2 separate regions of the Homo sapiens genome follow, and region 1 is reported to be linked to region 2. Evidence: microRNA targets listed by miRTarBase, many of them from high-throughput screens and not tested one by one. Region 2 holds a microRNA gene; the other region holds the end of a gene's coding sequence.
Evidence for each region. Region 2 holds the annotated microRNA hsa-miR-6080 (UCUAGUGCGGGCGUUCCCG, at 5,386-5,404, shown strand). A microRNA usually pairs through its seed, bases 2 to 8, with sites in the 3' UTR of a target mRNA and lowers its output. Matches are read on the target gene's strand: a 7mer-m8 pairs with bases 2 to 8, a 7mer-A1 pairs with bases 2 to 7 and ends in A, and an 8mer does both.

Region 1 (9,980 bases), not on the chromosome of region 2:
AATCACACTGCCACTGTCTCACAACATTCCTGAAACATATCAGTATGTGAAATTCGAGATACAGTGGAGCTTAGAGAGGCAGACTGGTCCTCAGAGACTTAAGTGAAAGATGTAACCAAAGAATAATTACCTTTATTGATGTCCAGGCTCTGTTGTGGTCATTTACACTGTAATGTTCATCTTCTTAGAAATAATGTTGCAAAAAAATAAAATAAAGCTTATAAGCCTCGGCAGCTTTAGCTGCTGGTTAGACTCTTTGGTCTTCAGAGATGTTTCGGAATCTCTTTGATCCCAAACCTAAATTATGTGATTCAAGGTAAACGTGGATCATTCAAATTTTAATTTTAACTCAGAGTCAGTAAGAAGGCACAAATAATTAAAAGCTGTGTAGATCACTATAATCCAAAAGTCTTTAAAAACTACCAGCAGTGTTTTGTTAATCATAAAAAATTACCATTATATGTTAATATGAGAAATGGTAAAAGATAACAAGACAATTCAGATTCCCAGCACTCAGCTTTCTGAATTAACAAAAGACTTCTTGATAGATACCTAGTTGTTCATGATGTCATGTGTGATAATGAAATCTGAGACTGAGGTCATTCCTGCCCTCCTCAAATAATTGTCTAAGTGTAGCAACCCACTTTCTGCTAAATTGTCTGCATCCCTGTTTTGTTCCATCAAGTTAGGGACATTCCCTCAGCTGTTGTCATGTCAGAGTTTGGGTTATTGGAGATGTTACCACACAAGAGCCTGTAAAAATGATAGCTCCCTAGAAAAAATGACTGGCCCTGGGCTGAGCAGGTGACCACAAAGGCTCTGGCTGCTGGGATTGTTACCTGAAAAGTCTGATTTGTTCTATGCACTGTGGAACAGCCACATAAGCATGTGGCAGAATCCTACCAAATACACAGCCCCTGTCTCTGGGCTGTCTCTGTGGGCTGTGGAGAGTGGAACAAGCAGATCTTCCTATCAGCAGCCCCTCTGTTACCACCACATAGACGTGGGCCAAGGCATGCCTAGTGCTGAAAGTGATGTTTGGCAATTGCTCATTTTTTCTCACTGGAGTAATCATGACATTCAGGTTTTTCCCAATGTTGTTCATTTGTCCCTCCCTTCTTTCTCCTGTCACATATTATTTTTAATCTTTATAAAACAATATTGAGGAAACTTCAGCTCTCTGAGGCCAGAGTCTAATCCCTTTAGCCCTCCAGACCATTATCTGAGCATCAGTTCAGATCGTCTTTGCTCCAGACCCACCACAAGCCCCATTTAACTCCTCTCCACCACCAGTGTCACCCATTCACGAAGATCCTCACAGTTCAGATATTCCTGTGGTTTACAAGGGGTTGGTGTCTTTTCAATAAAAAGGGCATATAAAATGACCTAAGGTAGATAGCATGGTGGCTTTACCACAGTCCTGTGGAGTAGGCAGACATGGGCATTCAGAACAAGATTTCCATGAAGATTTGGGAGAACATATTAAGGGAACCTATATAGAAACATCTACTTACTCACTTGGCTTTTTCTCCTTTTTCTTTCCCAGAAACTCATTATATATACAGCGACATGCACCAAATGTCCAGTAAAAATGGAATTTGGATGGAATTGGATACAACCTAAGTCACTGTGTTCATAGGCTTTATTTGTTTATGTTTATAATAATTATATCTAAATTCTATTGCCTGGAAACATATTTCATCAGCTTGATCTTCTTTTTAAATTGGTCTTCCTTTTCTGGTGAACTGAGTTGCATTCATATCTGATCATGTCACACTTGTTATTAGTCCATTAAGGTGATTGCTGAACATTGTAGAAATTTGACCGGAACAGGGCCAATATAAAGAGCTCATGGCAAAAGCAAGGAGAGGGTAAGAGGGACAGAATGAATGAAGGGACATCCTGCCTTGAATGTATCCTTCCACTGTGATACCTCAGCTTGTGAGAGAGAACCTTTTATTTATTTTATTTTATTTTATTTTATTTGAGATGGAGTCTCGCTCAGTCGCCCAGGCTATAGTGCAATGTCGCGATCTCGGCTCACTGCAAGCTCCGCCTCCCGGGTTCACGCCATTCTCCTGCCTCAGCCTCCCGAGTAGCTGGGACTACAGGTGCCCGCCACCACGCCCGGCTAATTTTTTTTGTATTTTTAGTAAAGACGGGGTTTCACCGTGTTATGCAGGATGGTCTCGATCTCCTGACCTCGTGATCTGCCCATCTCGGCCTCCCAAAGTGCTGGGATTACAGGCGTGAGCCACCACGCCCGGCTGAGAGAACTATTTTTTAAGGAGGTAGTGATAGAAGTGGAGTGTATGGCAGTGATTTTCAAGTGGGTGATGGTGGAATTGATGGAATCACACTTCCCTGATGTCAGTGGTTTTCTGTCGTGGCTGCACAAGGGAATCATCTGCAAAGCTTTTAAAATATTCTTACGCCTGAGTCCCACCCAGAGAGATTTTGATTTAGTTGGTCTGGTGTGGTGCCTGGGAAGTGGAATTGTAGAAACCTCCCCAGATTAATGTAATGTGCAGCTGAGGTTGAGAACCACTGCTCTAGCTGGCTGTCTCAGAATCCTGGGGAAAGGAAGGGCATGTGTAGCTTAAAAAATAATATTTTAAATTCTTTTATTTCATTTGAGACACAATATTGACTCTATTCAAAATGTTTAGTAACATTAAATGAGGATGTGATGGTTTTTGTATCAAAAGATGGCTGCTGTTAAAAAGGTTGAGACACAGGTTTTGAGGAAACAGAGAGCTAAAAGTTGGAGTGTTTATTCTATCCACTTTTTAGACTTTGCAAGAGTGTGCATCCACAATCACATATATATGGATGGAATCACTGAATCTTTTTCATCTCCTATTCAGAATACATCTGCTTCCTGCTTTCACAATGTGCAATTTTGCTCTTTTCTGTTGTGCAGCTATGGGAGACATCCATTTAAGATCAACTGTTTACATGTGATACATCGAAAACTGTTTACTTCAACTTTTATAGAAACCCAGGCTCATGGAATCACTGCAAATCTATCTGCTCTTCAGACAATACGAAGACCCTCTGAGATGCTACAGAGGAGAGGAAGCGGAGTTTCACATCTGGTTACCATTTTCTTTTTGTCATTGGCTTAGGATTTAACTAACCATGAAAAGAACTACTGAAATATTACACTATAACATGGAACAATAAAGGTACTGGTATGTTAATGGATAATCCGCATGACAGATAATATGTAGAAATATTCATAAAGTTAACTCACATGACCCAAATGTAGCAAGTTTCCTAAGGTACAATAGTGGATTCAGAACTTGACGTTCTGAGGCACATCCTCACTGTAAACAGTAATGCTATATGCATGAAGCTTCTGTTTATTGTTTTCCATATTTAAGGAAACAACATCCCATAATAGAAATGAGCATGCAGGGCTAAGGCATATAGGATTTTTCTGCAGGACTTTAAAGCTTTGAAAGGCCAATATCCCATAGGCTAACTTTAAACATGTATTTTTATTTTTGTTTTGTTTTTTACTTTTCATATTTATATTAGCATACAAGGACAATTGTATATATGTAACATTTTTAAAATTTTAAAAAAATGCAGCTGTTACACACAAGTGTATTTTGCCAAATGCCTAAAAATTCCGTCACAATCACATCATCGTCATCCATCCAGTGATCTTCAAAGACTATAAGCAGGTAATGTAAATATAGTGGTCAATGCTGTAAATGTGTCTCTCCATAATTCGTATTTGTCCAAAACATGTGATATCCCTTTAACCTGTGCACAGTCTGGAGGCAGTTTTATTGAGTGAGTAGTTGAGTGAGAGAACAAAATGCCCAGCAAAACTTCTGGCCTCCACAGTTTGCTGATGCAGGAGCCCACTCTGCTGCCGATGGGCTGCTCCCTGGAAATCATCTATCCCATCCGTCCATCCCATCTCATCCCAGTGAGCCAGCCCCTCAGCAGTGTGTGCTGCTGAGATTAAGCAAGTGCACCAAAGACACATGAGACAACGTACTGCCAGTGAGCTGGTAGCTTCTGGTTTGCCAATACTCTAACCCTTTGTGGCCTGAAGTTTTGTTCCTTGGCAAAACTTTGTAGTCACCCTTATCTGTGAAATGAATGACTTGTTTTAACAAAAACAACTTTGACACTGTTGATTAAGAATATTTGTCATCACTGGGATGTGAATCCCAACAAGTCATTCTGCACTGACTCTGAAGCAAGATGACGGAAGATTCTACTGTTTGAGTTGAGCAGCTTCAACCATTCATAAAGGGTTAAGTTAGATCTAAACCACAGAGATGCAGCATCTGCGAAGTTACACTAACAGCTGGTGGGGGAAAGAATCTGATGCTTTGAAACATATATTTTTAATCCATAGGAAAATAAGATTCTATTTTAAAAGACCCTTCTTTAAAACCAAAGTTTGATAGCTGTTATAATGGCAGATCTGTCATTCCAAAAGAAAGCTAGCTACCCTAGTGAGGCTGGAGATTGATGGGCTCAATCACATGGTCTGCTCTGAAGTATACTTCTGATTTCCTCATTTGCTGTGTGTTCTTAAGAGGAATGGAATCTGCAGACAGGTTTTCAGATATACTCTCTTAAATTTGATCCTCTCCCATAGTATCCATGGACAAAATCCATATCATCTTCATATGTAATCAATTTGATTACATATCATGCCCAAACTGAAGGGCCGAGTTAGAAGGCAGCATTTTATACTGTGTGTTTATGTCTTCTGTAATGGACCTCTCTTTTGAAAGTCTTTGAAATGTTTGGAAAGCAATTTAATGATCCAAAATTACATAATGTAAAACAGCATTTTTCATGACAGGAAGGGATGTGATTGTTGATATGACCATAAAGCGATCCATCAGGCCAAGGTTTGGGTGAGTGTTGGGCAGTGTTGCCACATAGCTCAAGCCAAGAACAGAAGGGCAGACAGATTGAAAGATGTAGCAAATAAAGTGACTTTTTACCAAGATCACTGTAACGTGCACTGAATGTTTCCTGGTACTGAGTGTACAAAAGGCTAATGCTATAAGGTTTATTTTGACTATAAAAGAGTTTATAGATTTGAATATAAGGTGCCTCATGTAAATATGCTTCCTAGTTACAGGTACACAAACTCTAATTTGAAAGAATCCACAAATGGCTAGCTGAGAAGTTAACAGATCTCTATCATTCGTCTGTGTGTCTTTCTTCCCTCACCTATTTTTACATGAAATTATTATTTCAAATGAAAATCATGATCATGTGCCTTTTGGGAGACATGGTTTCTCTAGAGGTATATAGTTTGTAATTACCCGCCTTGGTAATAACCTTCCTGTGGAACTGACTAAAAATTTTTGTTTTATTTGTAGAGATTATGATTTGAGGTATACAGTAACTTTAATGTTCTATTCTTGGAATCTACTCTATCTCCCATGTTTAAACATTCTTAGAGCCATTTGTGGGATTCATTGACAAATTTATAGTCTCAAGGGAGAGTTTCAAGAAGTATCTATATGTATACTCATGGTTGGGGTTCTAGAGGCATTACATCTAAATATTTATGACTTTTCATCCACCGAGGTAGGTAGCATTAAATATACAAGCACAGCATTATTTCTCTTTAAATATCTATTTTGGAGAGAAACTTTGAGGCCGTATCACAGTTTATATCATGCAACTAATATTTATATTTCCCAATCCACTACAAAATCATTGCTAAGCAGAAGAGAGCAGTTATTTGGCCTTTATGTTCCATTGTATGCCTTTTTCCCCTCTTCCAGTTTTATGCATTGATAAGACTACAGATTGGCACCCTGCTGCCTGAGAAGTTCCATTTATCCATAGTCATTGCAGTGCAGTAAACCCTGATTTAAAGGAACATTTAAGTCTCTCCAGTAAGTGTGAACAGGAAGGCATGGGATAGAAGAGAGTCCTTATGGAGTGGACTGGCCACATGAACTGTCCTCCAGCCACTCTTTATTTAGATGGGAAGTGGCATGGTCCTCTGAACGCTGCAGGCTGGAAATGATCCCCAGGGCACATGCAATCTGTGGAAAGGAATACATCGGACAGTGCAACATGGTGAGGGCTTTCAATTTGCTGTGGTTGCTGTATTTTTAACAAGACACCCGGAGCTTCGATTAGGAATAACCTATCATTAGAGTTGTTCCTTTAAAAAATGTTGATGAATAAAGCAAATGTGGGTTTAAAATGCCAACTTATTTTTCACTTTGATATTGGTGCTTTATTAAGTGATACCATAGTTTCTCTCTCTTTTCCCTGTTACTTTAAAAAGAATTTTAAAATTGTGTTTGTATATAAGGTCAGTCTGGCATAGAATTTCTGAAAGTAACATTAATAGGATTTCTAAAGAAGTTGTCAGAAAGACAAAATTGGATATTCTCTGCACTTTCAGAGAAGGACTATTTATGTTTGAATTTCATAACAGGCTTACATTTCTTTTCTATTGATTCCCTTGCATATCTACATAATTTAATCCTGTCTATTGTCCCAGATCTCTTGTGGCTACTTTACCTGTTACCTTTTTTGGGATTTTGTTCTTTATGTTTTACAGTTACCTTCGGACCAGAAGATATATGGTATTTTTATTCACTTTTTTCAGTGTTTTAAAATAAGGTTTGTTCATTTATTCATTTTATCCATTCATTTCCTATTGTCGTATAGTTCTAACCATATATATAGTACTTTAAATATTTTCTTATGTTATTATTTAACACAATAATAAATTCTTATCTAAAGAAAAGATTATTTTACTTTATTTTACTTAAAGGAAAGAGAATTTATTGGCAGGATATTGAGTAGCTTGTAGAGTATATGGAAGGGGAGAGCCAAGTTAGGAACTGGCAGGAGCGAGGAGGGACAAGACAGCTGCCTGCACAGTCTGATAGGACACATCTGGCTGCTGCCACTGGATGCCCACATGGGCAGCGTGTTGTAAATATCACCCTACCAGTTGGTAAGTTGGCATGAATTTTCCATGAAACACTTGACTGCCATTTGCAGCATCATATCTACTTTTTATGCACCTAATTATATTTTTCCTTTCACTTTTATGTTTTTTTCTAAAACTGCCACCTAAATACCTTTCCACTCCGTTAAATGTATGGAGTCAAGATAAATTTCTCATTCTTGCTCTACAGTTTAAGATGTATAAGAAGTAAACACTTCCGTGGAATAGGGCTTAATTTGGGGCTCAAATGTTTTGTTTTCCTCCTGAGATGTTTTTGAATGGATAAGACTACTCTGGTTTTGGATGCAGCAACTTTTCTCCTGGCATGGAAGAACTAAGGACTTTGATAAACAGTTTCCCATTGATAGTATAATATAATGAGGGGCCCAGTCTGCTCTTGTGAAAATTGGCTGAGCGGCAGCAGCCCATCCCAGCTGTGTGTGAGTAGCCCCGCTGTTAAAAGTACACCTGCTGGGAATTGTTGGCACATGCTCATAGCATATGCTCTGTGGGGGAGGTGCTTTTAATTCCAAGAGGAGCTTTTCTCCCACATCTGCGGATGCAGAACAAAGATGCAGCAGGACTTTAGAAAACAGGAGTGTTTCTACTGACATTTTATTCATTGCTTTGTTAGTCCCGCAAATGGAGCAACTTCTGGTTGTTTGTAAGCAGAAAAACAAAACATTCAAAACCAAAAACCTAATTAGTACTTTTGTCCTTTATATCCCTAGGATGCTCTAGGGAGTAGAGGTGGCAGGCATCTTTATCTTCACCCACTGGCACATTAGCAGCTTATGCAACTTAGGAAGTCACTGGGAGATGAGTCCTAAAAGCCTGAATTTCAGGATGGGGAGGAGATAAGAAGCAGAGAACTTTGGGAGACCATGGGGCATTTAGTCCTGGCATAGACACAGAATGGATATTCACAGGAAGATTCCTGAGGCCAGATATGCAGGAGAGCACACATTGTCACAAGGGGTGTGGTGGGAAGAGAGGTGCTGGATGCCTAAGACAGACTTCTGTGCTTGGCAGATTGACTGAGTGTTGACTCTGAATACTTTGTGGTCCAGTCCATAATAGGCCAGTCACTCCTGCCTGATGCATCCCTGTTGCACTGTTCATAAAACCTGTATCATATGGGGAAGCTTCAAGGCTGGCAGGCTTTTCATCAAGTAATCATCATTCCATGTTCCTACGTATCCTTGAAATCAAAACCAGGCAATATGTGTGTTTTTGGTTTTGTTTTACAAAAAGGCATACAATGAGACGAATTCTTAAGATAATGCACATACAGAATCATCAATAAAGTTTCAAAGAGTTTATGAAGAAAAGGTATTTTCCTTTCTTGTAAAAAATGTTATATATATATAATATTCTGATCTGCATTCACCTTAGGGCTTAGCCTCTTATTTTATGAATTTTCAGGCTGTGATTTGTGTTGGATGGCTAAGCTCTAAAATAATGCAAATAGCCCCAATCTTTAAATATAGCGGTGCTAAGTTGAACAAGTAACACAATACAGAAAATGCTGATATGAATACTTAGTAATAATACAAAAGTTCCTGCTAAATTATATATGTGTATCACTGCCTGACTAGAAACCCCACTTTTCTTTTCTAATCCAGCACAAAATCAAACTCTGATTCTACAACCAGTCTTTTTAAAGGGCAAAAATGACTCAACACCTTTGTTTTGTATGGAAAACTTTTTTTTTTACACTAACTGCAAAACTGCTTTAAAAAAAGGCTTATTCAGGATAGATAAGCATGTACTCCTTTTTTAACTTGCTGGAAGACTTGCCCCTCCAAACTAGCACCCCCAAAAGACAACTTCTTTCAGAAACGGGGTGTTTTACCTAAACATAGTAGCTTACATGTTAGCCAGCAGTAGGTCGGCACTAGTGTTTTCCACGGTTATCACCTTTGACAGGTGATGTGCATCTATAGATAGTGGAAGCCACCCCATGAGGAGGTGTTAATAGCAGCATGGTTTCACTTTTGGTAATCAGGTAATCATGTGTATATACTTAGATTCGCATTATTTTAACATTTCTCTGCTACTCTGCACTTCAGGTTCGTTAAGCTATTTTAATAATTACTGGGGTTATGGCAAACACCAATGGAAATGTATATGGCAACTGCTTTCCTGAGCAAGTGTGATTTGTTTTATGGCTGTTCAAGTTATAAAATTGTTCTTACATTGTAGGTAAACAAAATCTTGATGTTTTTAAAGGTCACTGTAACTTAAGGTTCAAATTTCTGGCACAGTTTTATTAGTATTCACTTCGGAAGCTAATAAGATACCATGGTTTTCTATGTTACTCCCATTGTAACATTAGTAAAGTGACTTTCAATAAAAGATTTATGTTATTTTGATGCACGACTCTTCTTTTTCTCCCAGCTAGTTTCTCTTTCAGAAGCTTTGTTAGGGGTACAGTCAAGGGATTGTTTCTTTCCTGTTCACTGGTGTCCCAGAAGGGGTCACTAACATGATGAGAAATACAACCCTTTAGCAAAGCCTGAGTGCTCGATTTGTTGCAGTTTCCTCATCTGGATGGCAGAGGTAGTTTACTTATTTATCTATTTGCCTCTCCTTGTAAGCACTTCCTCTCTCACCCTAATGAGGATCAATTTCCTATATCCTGTCCTGTAGACCAGGCAGTGGTGCTTAGTTAATAAGGTCACCTGTGCTGCATTCTAAAGCACTGAGCCTAGGATGGGCTCATGAGTTCATTGCCTAAAAACTGTTCCACCCTGGCTTTTTCATCTTCCAGGCAGGCATTTTACCTACCCGTCATTATTCTGGCATTTGCGGGGTCCTTGCCATCTGTTCATAGGCTGCATAGTTAATAAGTTATAAGTAGTCAAGGTATTGTTTTAATGTGAGAAAAAGAGAAGGAAGTCACTGATGAAGGGTTTGTACATTTAGTATGAGATTTTAAAAGTTTATGGTGATTACACATAGCTCCATTTCTTGCATTTATAATATTTTAGTCATATAATAAGTCATTTAG
Region 2 (10,983 bases):
GCACCCTCACTTCACTCCTGACCACTGCCCTCTGCCTTCAGCACCCCCCTGACCAGCTGAGCTTCTAGTGGCCACTTCGGATAAGTGTTATATGGCCTTTCTCTCACGTCACCTTCCTGTGCATCTTTCTTCTGGACACTTCTTGTCCTCTGAGCCAGCACTCTCATGCTTCTCTTCCCTTTGTCTGGCACCTAAATCCAGGCAGGCCCCACCTTTCTCCACCCTGCTCCTCCCCAAGTCCCCCCCACCCCCCAACTCAGTAAGCAGCACCACTGTCTGCCCACAAGTGCCAGCTGGGAATCTGAACTCAACCCGATTTCCCTCCCACCTCCCTCGGCCCCCAGACCCTGCCCATCCATCTCCCAAACCTCTGTTACCACCACATGCCCACGAGACCACCAAGAGCTTCGGCCATTCTTGAGGCCCTGGCCACAGGGATTTTTTTCTCAATCCCATTCCTGTCTCTGCTAAAAGCCTCACAGCAGCTGCAGGATAACGTGCACATTCCTGGCAAGGGCTCATGAGGCCCTGCCCCGGTGGGCACCCACTCTCAACCCCATGCTCCACTCTGAGCCCCGGCCCCATGTCTTCTGTTGCTGGCCTCCTATCCAAGAGGGTGAGTCCCCCAGGACCGTGGCTGTGCCTGAGTCCTCTCTAGATCCAAAGGCTCACCAGGGCTCTGCAGCTATTTGGCTAGTTCATGCCTAATGAACGAGTGAATGGGCCTGGAGGATTATGGTGGGGAAATGCCGCCTGGGACAACTAAGGGCAGGGGTGGGGTTCCCTTGTGGGGGCAGGACCAACTCCCTACCCTGGACTTTGTTGGGGGTGGAGCACCAGGGAGAGCCACAGCTGCCTCTTGAATAAAGCTCCGTGGCAGGGAACGTGGTATTATTGCACTCATTGCACAGGGGAGGAAACTGAACCAGAGACGCAAAGTGACTTGTGGAGGTCACATAGTGAATTAGGGCCACAAGTGGGGCCAGGGAGCAGCCTGTCTCTGGCCAATGTCCTAGTTCCCCCCTGGGTAAGTCCCCTGCCCTCATCACCTGTGCCCCTCCCCCCATATGCCACTGCAACTGGGAACCTGCTGGGAGCTGGAGGAAGGATGGGCAGAGGGGCCACCTGGCAGGCGCCCTGGCAGCCGGGGTGATCTGTCTTCTCAGGAGATGTCAGGACCTGGGCAGTCTCCTTCCTCTTTGGTCCTGGGGCCTGGGGTGGTGGCCCTTGGGCAGACCTACAGAGGCCTGGCTCATAGGTAAGGGGCTGCCGCACCTCCGCCCTATTCAACATACACTCTCTGTGCACTCTGTCTGAGCCAGACCCTGGGCCAGATGCGAGGTTCAAAGAGCAAGGCCATTCCCCCACCTCCAGGGGCTCCGCTCAGACGGGCAGGCACCGTCCCACCGTCACTAGGACAGAGAATGTGGAGAGGCCGGGAAGTGCGCCACCGGGAGCCTGCGCAGGAAACGGAGGGGCGCTGCGGGGGAAGAGCGCTGGCATCCAGCCACCCATCCCAGAGAAGCTGCCTGGCTGGCTGGCAGGGGCGCGAAACAGGAACCAGCCGCGGTCTCCAGCCCCGCCCGCCGGGTGCCGTTTTCCACCCTGGCCACAAGGCGGCGGGCTGCCGCTGCAGGAGCCAGAGTGAAGGCGGCGCAGACCCAGGGAAGCCAAACGAGGATGACCCAGTCTGGGTGGACCCCCTGCTGCTGCCAAGCGCTTCGAAGCCTTAATTCATTTAAGGCTCACAACCCTAATCCTTAGGTATTGTGCTTACACCAGAGGACGCTGGGCCTGGGGGGGGAGGGGGTGGTCCTCGCTTGTAAGTTAAGTGGCTGTCAGCAGCTGGCAGCTGCCCCAGCAAAATCCAGTTCCCCTTTCCCTAGTCTCAAAACCTGAGCTCTGCATTGTAACGAGACAGGCGGAGGGAACACCCAGCAGCGGGCCTACGGAGGCGTGTCTCCTTCGTCTGGGCATCCCGGACTCAGTCCTGGCACATGGTGGGCATCAGTGTTCATGGTAATGACATCAGGCACAGCGAAATAAATCAGAGGCTCCCAAGGTTCAGAGGTCATCTGTCCATCCCCTCCCTTTGTGCTAAAGAACAAACCGAGACCCTGAGAGAGGAAGAGAGCTGCCTCTAGATCATCACACGGCCGGTGGCAGATGGCAGAACGGTTCTAAGCATCCTTTTCTCCCCCTCGGGCTGCCCCTCCCTGAAAAGTTCCTAAAGTTCAAAATGTCAGAGTCCCCCAGAGTGTTCTGAGGATGCAAGAGTGTTTGTAAAACGTGCTCTATTTTCGATTTCCCAGATTAACACAACTGGATTCTGAAGAGGGGAAAAAACAACCTCACTTAACACGTCTTTCTGAAACAAACCCATCAGGAGTTCTTTTAAAAAAAAAAAAAAAAAAAAAAGGAACTGAAATGCTGGAAGCACCCTCAAAGGGAAGCAGACGCCTGACTTTCACATCCACCCTCTCATCTGACTCCAGGCTCCTTGAGCTGGCGGCAGGCCCGCAATCCCCCGTTCCGTGCCCAGATGCACTTCGGAATATAGAACAGCTGGGACTTGGAAAGATAATATGTGGCACCCACCTGCTGTAGGTTACATAACCTCCCAGCAGGGCTTGGGGCAGCAGCCGGCCATCGAGCTTATTTGCATTTCTGCAGCAAAACATGAATATTCACACAAGTGCGATAAATAAAGACCATCAACAGCCTCATATCAGTTCAAGCGCAATTTTGCCACCAATTTGATTACGAAAAATCTTTCGGGCTTCCAGGGAGCTTTGGAGCCTGGAAATTGCAGATGAGGGATGGGGGCCTGCACTGTTTCGCGGCTGGGGAGAGGGAGCTCATCCGAAGTCTTCCGACAGAGGTGGGCGTCATGCCCGACGCTGAGCGGAGTGGGTCTCCTCGAGCCCAGGCTCCCTGCGGGCGCTGTCCTCAGCGAGCCTCCCCGCCTCCGCGCCCGGGGTCGTACCTGCTTCACGATCTCCTACCGCGGCGGGCCGCGTACCTCCTGGATGGCCTCTTAGACGTTCTCTGAGTCGCTGCGCGACAGGGGCAGCAGGCACACCCAGGAGCCCGCTACGCTGCAGGCCTTGAAGCTGCCGCTGCTTCCGAGGTTGCCGGCGGGAGGCGAGACGACGGCGCGCGTCAGGTCGTCCAGGGACTGCGCGGGCCGCACGGGCGCCGTGGGCCGCAGGTACAGGCAGGCGGGCAGGCCGGGCGCCAGGCTGCTGCGCTGGCTCGCGGCGCCGCGCTGCGCAGGGCCGCACAGGGAGCTGGCCCCGCCTCGGGGCTCCGCTGGGGGGCCGTTGGGGGCCGCTGCCACAGCCGCGCTCACGAACCGGTAGTCGTAGGCGAGCGGCTCAGGGGCTGCGGGTCCCGATGGGGGGACCTGGCGGCGCGTCAGCGGCAGGGTTGCCCAGCGCAGGCAGCTCGCGCACGTACTGCGCGGGCAGGTAGAAGGGGCGGCCGCCGGGCTTGCGCCGCACGTGCCACCAATGCTCAGTGCTCTGTGCTGCGCCGCAGCGGCCGGTAGCGCTCATTGGGCGGGATGGCCACGCGGCGCCCGTCCTTGCCGGTGTACTCGAAGGGGTGCTCCACCAGTACGTACACGTCCCCCTCCACATCCGCCGCCATTGCGGCCGCGGCATTTTCCTGCAGGCAACAAGGAAGAGGGCCGCGGAAGTCAAGACCACTGAGCCCGGAATAGCCCAGCACTCGAGGAGAGACTTGGGTTCGAGTCCCGATGCTGCACTTGCCGTTCGCCTTCGGGCCTCAGTTTTCCCATTTCTAAAATGAGGACTTGAATAAAATCACATGCAAGGCTTCCATTCTTACACTCAGTGCTGGAATTAGGACAACCTCTTCATTCCGTGGGGTTGATTCTAAGATTTCAGCCTCGCTTCAGTCCTGCGGTGGGGAGATTGTGGGTAGTCTTGGTCCAAATCGACTGCGAGGGAAACTTTGGCTTTAAAACGAGGGGTGATTACCTGCTCTAAGGTCGACACCACGCTTGCTTGATAGTTGACCGTGCCTTAGTTTTCCCGTCAGTCAAGTGGGAAGAGCAGCCCATTTCCTGCCGCTCCCCGGGCCCTGTCCCGCCTGGACGCCTCCCTCCAGGAGCCTGCGCCCCGGCCCCGGGGTCAGGGTTGGGATGCGGGCTCTGCAGGCGCCCCGGCGAACAGCTCTACCTGGAGGCTGTCCCTGCCCCGCTTAGTCCAAGGGCCTTGGTGTGGGGGCCTCCGCTGTCAAGGCGGGGGAACCGGTTCTCTCGGTTTCTCTCCCCTTCCCCAGCGGCTTCAACGCAGACGTGAGCCCGAGCCGGGCCCGCCCCCGCCCCCTGCTCTCCGGCTCTCACGCCGCCCCCCGAGAGAGGCTGCCCACCTGCCCTGTGACCCCTACAGTGTCCCCAAGAGAGTGGCCCCTGGAGAATGCACTCTGAGACAGTGACTGTCCGTGCGGAGTCCCAAAGCAGGGGCCCTCAAAGCTCTCCGGAGTGGTCACAAGCCCCGCTCCCGCCCCGGCTGGGTGTGTCAGGGATGGGGGAGAGCTTAACTAAATCTGCCGGCGCCCCTCCACCAAAGCCATGAGTCGGTGGTCTTCTCCGGAAGTGCATGGCCCCTCCAAGCTCCCACACTGACCACATCTCCTCCTGCCTCCTAAGGTGACCCAGGCCAAGGGCCAGGAGACCGCGGCTTGCCGAGGCTGAGGGACCGAAGGAGCAGGGTCCAATCCGGGACTCCCGTAGGGCTCCTTCGCCACTTTGTCAAGCGTTCCTCGACTAGGAAAGGGTATACACTTGAGTCACTAAGCACACTGGGCCCCGGAGGCGGGGTCATCGAGCTGCCCAGAGCCAACAAACCCCAAGGTGGACACTGCCCCGGCGCCCCTTCCCCCCGGACCCCGCAGCGCACTCACGTCTGCTGGGCGGGCCTCAGGGAGCCCAAGGGCCGGGTGGGCGGGGCCGGCAGGTTAGGCCCGGACCATCGCCCTGGGCGGGGCTTCCGAGGTGGTGCCGGAGAGGTTTCGCGGAATCGGAGCTGGCAACGGCAGCGAATAGGGACAGCGACGCTCAGGAGTGCTGTCACCCATACCCAAAGAAGCTGCGTCTGGGCGGGGCGAGGAGGAACCTGAATGCCTCTGCTGGGGACCTTGGGGGGCATTGGGACGAGGACCGGAGCAGAAAGCCGGGGTCCGGAGCCAGGAAGGCTGCGTCTGAAGGGGCGCTGGCTGGTCGCTAGCGGAGCCCAAGGAGGGTGGGCCTCCCCTGTCCCGCCTTCCCCCTTCCCTTCTCCCCCGGGGATTTGCTGTCCCGGAGTCCCTGCGTCCCTCCCGCCTGCGGCTCTGGGAATGCCGGTCTGGGGCTGGTTGTCTAGTGCGGGCGTTCCCGTTCGCGGGGAGGTCATTGGCACCCTGAATCACCCACTGCGAGCCCTTCCAACCGGATTGTAGACCTGCCAGCTCCGGGCCCACCTCCCCCAACAGGGCCTTTCCCGGAGCAACCCGGCCGGGCCTGGAAAAACTCCGAGAGGGATTCCCAGCGCAGGGACGCCCACCGGAGCGCAGTGTCTCGGGCTGGATAAGAAGGGGACCCGGCCACAGCTCCTTCGCCAACCTGCGGGAACACAGAGAAGGGGAGGGATTGGTGGGGGCCGAGAGGATCCCTGGAGCGCGAGAGCGCACCCGTCGCCAGGAGGTCCCCTGCGTCCACTGCCCAGGCGACGCAAGCTACAGCGGCGTCAACGCCTGGGTCGGCGCTAGGGGCCTGGGCCTGCTCCCCACCCGCCTCCAGAGGGAGGGCAGCCCTTCGCCTACCTTCTCCTCCCCGTGGGATGCGGCCCGAGCAGCTCCCGCCCCAGCACGGAGACAAGGGGAGCAGGCGCGCGGAGCTCCCGGGTGCGGACCCGCCACCTGCCGCACCCTTCCCTCCCCAACCCTGCCCCTTTCCCCACCCCCACCCCACCTCCCACCTCAACTCCCGCTCGGCGGCCCACTGCCTGCCCGGGCACCTCGGGGCGTCCGCTCGCCGGCCTCGTCTCCACTTGTCCCGGCAGGCGCGCGTGGGCTCGGCGTCCCGCGCTCCCTCCTCGACCGCGCGGCTCCGGCGCTGCCAGGTTTCCTGTATAGCACTATAACCAGTGAGGCACCGGCGGAGAGCGCCCGGCAGAACTTCCTCCCGGACTGGGGCTGGGCTGCGGTTGCGAGAGACAATCCCCGGCGTCCTGGCTTCCTGTCGCCTCTGGGCCAGGCCCGCGCCTGAAGAGGAAAGATGCCACCCCCTCCCCTGCATTTCCCGGGATCCTGGGCCACTCCCGGGATCCTGGCTGTCTCCAGGGAGGAAGAGGCCGCGGGGCTGAGATGGTGGGACTGGGGATGGCGGGAGTCTCCCGCGCAGCTTCTCCTGGCCAGATTGCCTTCCCACCATCCCCCACTCCCTCTTGACCCTTGCGGGGAAAGAGGTCCACCCTCCAATCCGTCCACAGGGTAAGCTCAGAACAACCTCCTGGGGGCCAGGAGTCCAGCCCCAGGGCCCTCCGCCTTGGGGGTCTTCTGTTTGGGAATTATCTGCCTCTCTGGACAAGCTGCCTCGCCCTGATCTGAGCCTGCGCTCACTCCACACGTCACAAACCACAGCCCTAGCAGACCCCCTGCCCTCAGGGGCCCCCAGAAACAGTTGTGCCTATGGACGTGGCTGTGTGTGCGGAGAGCTGGCTGATTCAGGCCAGTGTTCTGGGACGAAGAGAAGCCCACACCCCAGGCCATGGCCCCTCTTGACTCCACCTCCTGGGGGCCCAGGGTTGGATGGGAAGCTGAATCTGGCCACACTCGTTCTGGAACTCCCTTACCTCTGTATCTTTGCCCCTGCTAGGCGTTGCCCACCCGTGAGTCTACACTTCCTCTGAGAATCTCAGTGTGTCTGAGGCCTGGTGGCACTTTGGGACCCTCCAGGGTGGGCACACAGCAGAACTCAGCATTGGTCTTTGGTGCCCGACATGCTTAGAAAATAGTGACTGGAGGAATCTTCTCTCCCTCCCTACCTTTTAGGTCTCTCCCCACCTGCAGCACAGCCAGGCAGCGGCTGGCAGTGGTGATGGTCTTTGCGTGGGGTCAGGCAGGTATGATGCCCCACTCTGCTGCTTGGCGGCTGGTAGGCCTTGGGAGTTCTGCCTTATCTCTGCAGCTCAGCTTTCTTTCCTATCAATAGTAACACCCACTTCACTGGATTATTGGGAAGATTAAATGAGATCCACTAAGCAGTGCTTACCACATGCCCAGCGTACACCATATATCAGCTATTTTTTTTTTTTTTTTTTTTTTTGAGATGGAGTCTGGCTCTGTCGCCCAGGCTGGAGTGCAGTGGCACAATCTCGGCTCACTGCAACCTCTGTCTCTGGGTTGAAGTGATTCTCCTGCCTCAGCTTCCTGAGTAGGTGTGATTACAGGCACCCACCATCATGCCCAGCTAATTTTTGTATTTCTGCAGAGACGGGGTTTCTCTATATTGGCCAGGCTGGTCTTGAACTCCTGACCTCAAATGATCTGACTGCCTCGGCCTCCCAAAATGCTGGGATTACAGGCGTGAGCCACAGTGCCTGCCTATATCAGCTATTATGACACTTTTATTATGTGATGAGCTCTTGGGGTTTGGACTGGAATCTCCAAACCACCCGTCCTCCTTCAGGCAGAAGAGAAGGGGAAGTCCCAGCTACTCGGGAGGCTGAGGCAAGAGAATTGCTTGAACCTGGGAGGCGGAGGTTGCAGTGAGTCGAGATCACACCACTGCACTCCAGCCTGGGTGACAGAGTGACTCCGTCTCAAAAAAACATGGGTGAGAAGGGGAAACAAGTGCCCTCAGAGGCGCTTGGCTGAGGATGGAGAGGGGCTGAGCCCACTGGCAGGGCAGAACCAGGTCATGTGCCATGGCCCTCCACTGGGCCTCCCTCCCCCAGTTTCTCTTCTCTTCTCTGGCCCTACCATCTATTGTCCTTGGGGGAAGCTGTGGCACCTAGATGGGCAGAGGGTGCCAACTTGTAATCTGAAAGGGGCCTTCAAGGACAGGAAATCGCAGATCTGAATGTTGTCTGTTTCCATCCCATTTTACCGCAATCTGATTTCCCTGAGAATTAGTCTGTTTCCAAGGGCGCCTTCGGGAAGAATCCTCACAGGCCTAAGCCCTCCCCAGGCCAGACTCCTGCCCACTCAGGGATGGGGCAATGAGGGCTCTGACCAGGCCAGGCTTGTGGTCATGGCAGGTGCATAACCCAGCTCCTGGCTTAGGAGGTATTGGCATCTGGGCACAGGTGTGCGCCATGACCGGGAGAAGCTATGCACAGCCTCCACCTGCCTGCCACCGCCACCTCTGTTCTGCACAGGCATCCAGCTCCAAAGCTGGGTGGGTGACTCAGCAGCTGATCACCCCCAGGGAGGGGTGGGGGTGGGCTCATCTCTGACAGTGACAGGTGGATCTCCACCTGAGGCCTCAGACTCCAAGCTGAGCGCAGGTAAGACAGCTAGGACTGAGGGCCCGCTGGGTCCAGGAGAGGTGGGAGAAGGCGACAGAGAGACCAGCAAACCCACATTTCCCTGAAGCCTGGAGGGTCTGAACTTCACTTCAAAAACAATTCCAGGCTCCCACCCCAGCACCAAGGCCCCTTCAAAGGCAGTCCTGCTCCGGGGAAGTTCTTCAGTCTCCAGTGTCCTGGCTGGGCAAGTTCAGTGATGCTTTGGGAATTCATAGCTTTGTGAGGCGGCGGCTGCATCCACAGGGCAGCTCCCCCGCATGCCCTGCACAGCTTAGGGCGAAGGACCAGGTCATTTCTCCACAGTGCAGGGCCCAGCTGCCTGCTGTCTCTAGGGTCCTGCCTATCTGTGCCCTGGCAGGGGTCAGTCAGGCAGAGAGGGTGACCCCGGGCACCCACCAAGGTGGGCCTGGAGCATCTGCAGCAGTGCCCCTGTCTGTAGAGGGGTGAGGAGGGCACGGGGATTGGGGGTGGGCAAGACGGCGACCCTCCCTAAACCGAGGAGGGCTCATAGTGCTGAAAGTGCTGGTTTCCAGTCATTTCTCCTTCTCCTAATGGGGCCAAGGCCCCAGGCTAGAGAAGAGCTAGGGGCTCTGACGCTGAGAAAGGGGTGGGCTCAGCAGGTGAGACGCACTGGGGTGGGGAGTAAAGAGGAGACAGAGAGGAAGTGGGGTCACCAGGACTGGCCCTGCCCTGCTGAGGGGCGGTTTGGCACTGGCAGTGAGGGCCAGGAAAGGCACTGGGTGGGCCCACAGGCCCTGTCCCAGCAGTGGCCTGCCCAACAGCCACCCGCTGCCTCTAGGACAGGCCTGAGAGGCTCCTGTGCATCCGCTGGGGGTGAAAATGTCTGGATTTCATGGGTGACTCGCATACGGTCAAGAATAAAAAATACTTTCTGTTGAAATATGAATGGGAAAAACCCACCTTAAAAAACCAGACCTTTTAATCAGGAATGTGGAATTGAAAATGTTCCCCAAGTCCCCTTTCCACAGTGTTTGGCCAGCCCTAACGGAGGCGCCGGGACGCTGGTGAGCCAGGGCCTGGTGAGTAAACGGCCCTGCCTGCCCCAGACAGGGAGCATCTGGTGGTGGCCACGCCTCCTGCAGCAGAGGGGTGGGGGGAGGGCCAGGGGACATCATGGGGACTTCCTGGGCTTTCTGTAGGAGGCCAGTGCTCTGGTCACATCTGAGGTCTTCCTGACAAGGGGACACAGCTGTGACACGGTGAGTATCCTGGGCTGATAGGAAACCCAGCTGGGATGGCTGAGCCACACTCACCCCCGGCCTTCAGAGTGGGATCAGCAGAGGGGCATCAGGCGAAAACGTTCTGTTGCTGGTACTTGCGTCAGCGAGCACAGCGGGGGCAGCCCTTCTTCACCACAGCCTGGCAGCTCTGGTGGAAGACGGTCTTGCACTTGGCACACCTGGGGAGAGAGCAGCACACCTGCTGGTGCCGGCTGGGCTGGAGGTTGACCTGTGGCCACGCTGGCCAGCACTTTTGACCAGAACCCACGATATGGCTGTGACATACTGTGTAACCCATGCACGCACGCTGTGCCTTTCCATCCCGGAACAGGAGATTCTCGAAACAGTGCTTACCCATACGTCACACAATGCACACTGATATTCTCTGTCCTACTGCATTTTTTATAAATGCTGCTTGAGATTCATTAAAGATTTCTTACCTGTATTTTAAAAAGCATTTACTTATTTATTTATTTATTTTTGAGACAGAGCCTTGCTCTGTTGCCCAGACTGGTGTGAGGCTCACTGCAACCTCTGCCTCCCAGATTCAAGCAATTCTCCTGCCTCAGCCTCCCAAGTAGCTGGGATAACAGGTGCCCACCACCACACCTGGCTTACTTTTGTGTTTTTAGTGGAGACGGGGTTTCACCATGTTGGCCAGGCTGGTCTCAAACTCCTGACCTGAAGTGATTCACTCGCCTCGGCCTCCCAAAGTGCTGGGATTACAGGCGTGAGCCACCGCACCCGGCCAAGACTGTATAATTTTAAAAACTCACTCCCAGGCCCATTCAGGGCTGAATCCCGGCCAGTGGACACCGATAAAAAAAGAACTAATGTTCCCAGTTCAGTTTTCCACTCCCACATGGGTTGCAGGAAGGTCTGGATGAATTTTTCCATTGAGAGGTTGCTGATAATGAGCAATAACTGGGAACAAGAGGGATCATTTCAGCAACCGAGGCAGTAGCAGTGGCAGTGGCAGCTACCACCCACCAGGTGCCCACTTTGTGCCTGGTCTTATGCCAACAGTGCAGGGCGGTAACTCATACAACCCTCCTCAACCCATGCATACACTGAGACCCCAGGAGGCTCCACTCAGAGAGCCGGCAGCCACCTCTTCTTTAGGAAGACAGATGGTTCTGTAGAGGCAGAGGAGTCCTGGGAGAGCTTGTCTTGCCCCCTGAACTGGTCCAGAGCTGGCCATGACT

Region 1: miRTarBase lists ADAM22 as a target of hsa-miR-6080. Seed matches in the 3' UTR shown: 7mer-m8 at 8,862-8,868.

Annotation. Positions count from the first base shown.
Region 1 is chr7:88,193,548-88,203,527 of GRCh38, forward strand. It overlaps ADAM22 (ADAM metallopeptidase domain 22), which reads left to right. Exons shown (of 32, transcript NM_001324418.2): 32 at 2,924-9,342. The coding sequence ends at 2,944. Among named protein-coding and RNA genes, the nearest start is that of SRI-AS1, 18 kb to the right of the region's middle.
Region 2 is chr17:64,775,411-64,786,393 of GRCh38, forward strand. It overlaps MIR6080 (microRNA 6080), which reads left to right and starts at 5,349; the gene lies at 5,349-5,414. It also overlaps the pseudogene ARHGAP27P1-BPTFP1-KPNA2P3, the pseudogene ARHGAP27P1 and the pseudogene PLEKHM1P1. RefSeq lists enhancers at 2,388-3,057, 3,058-3,726, 9,569-10,328, 10,700-10,983, 10,766-10,983 and silencers at 3,213-3,432, 3,593-3,652, 4,906-4,955, 5,724-5,823.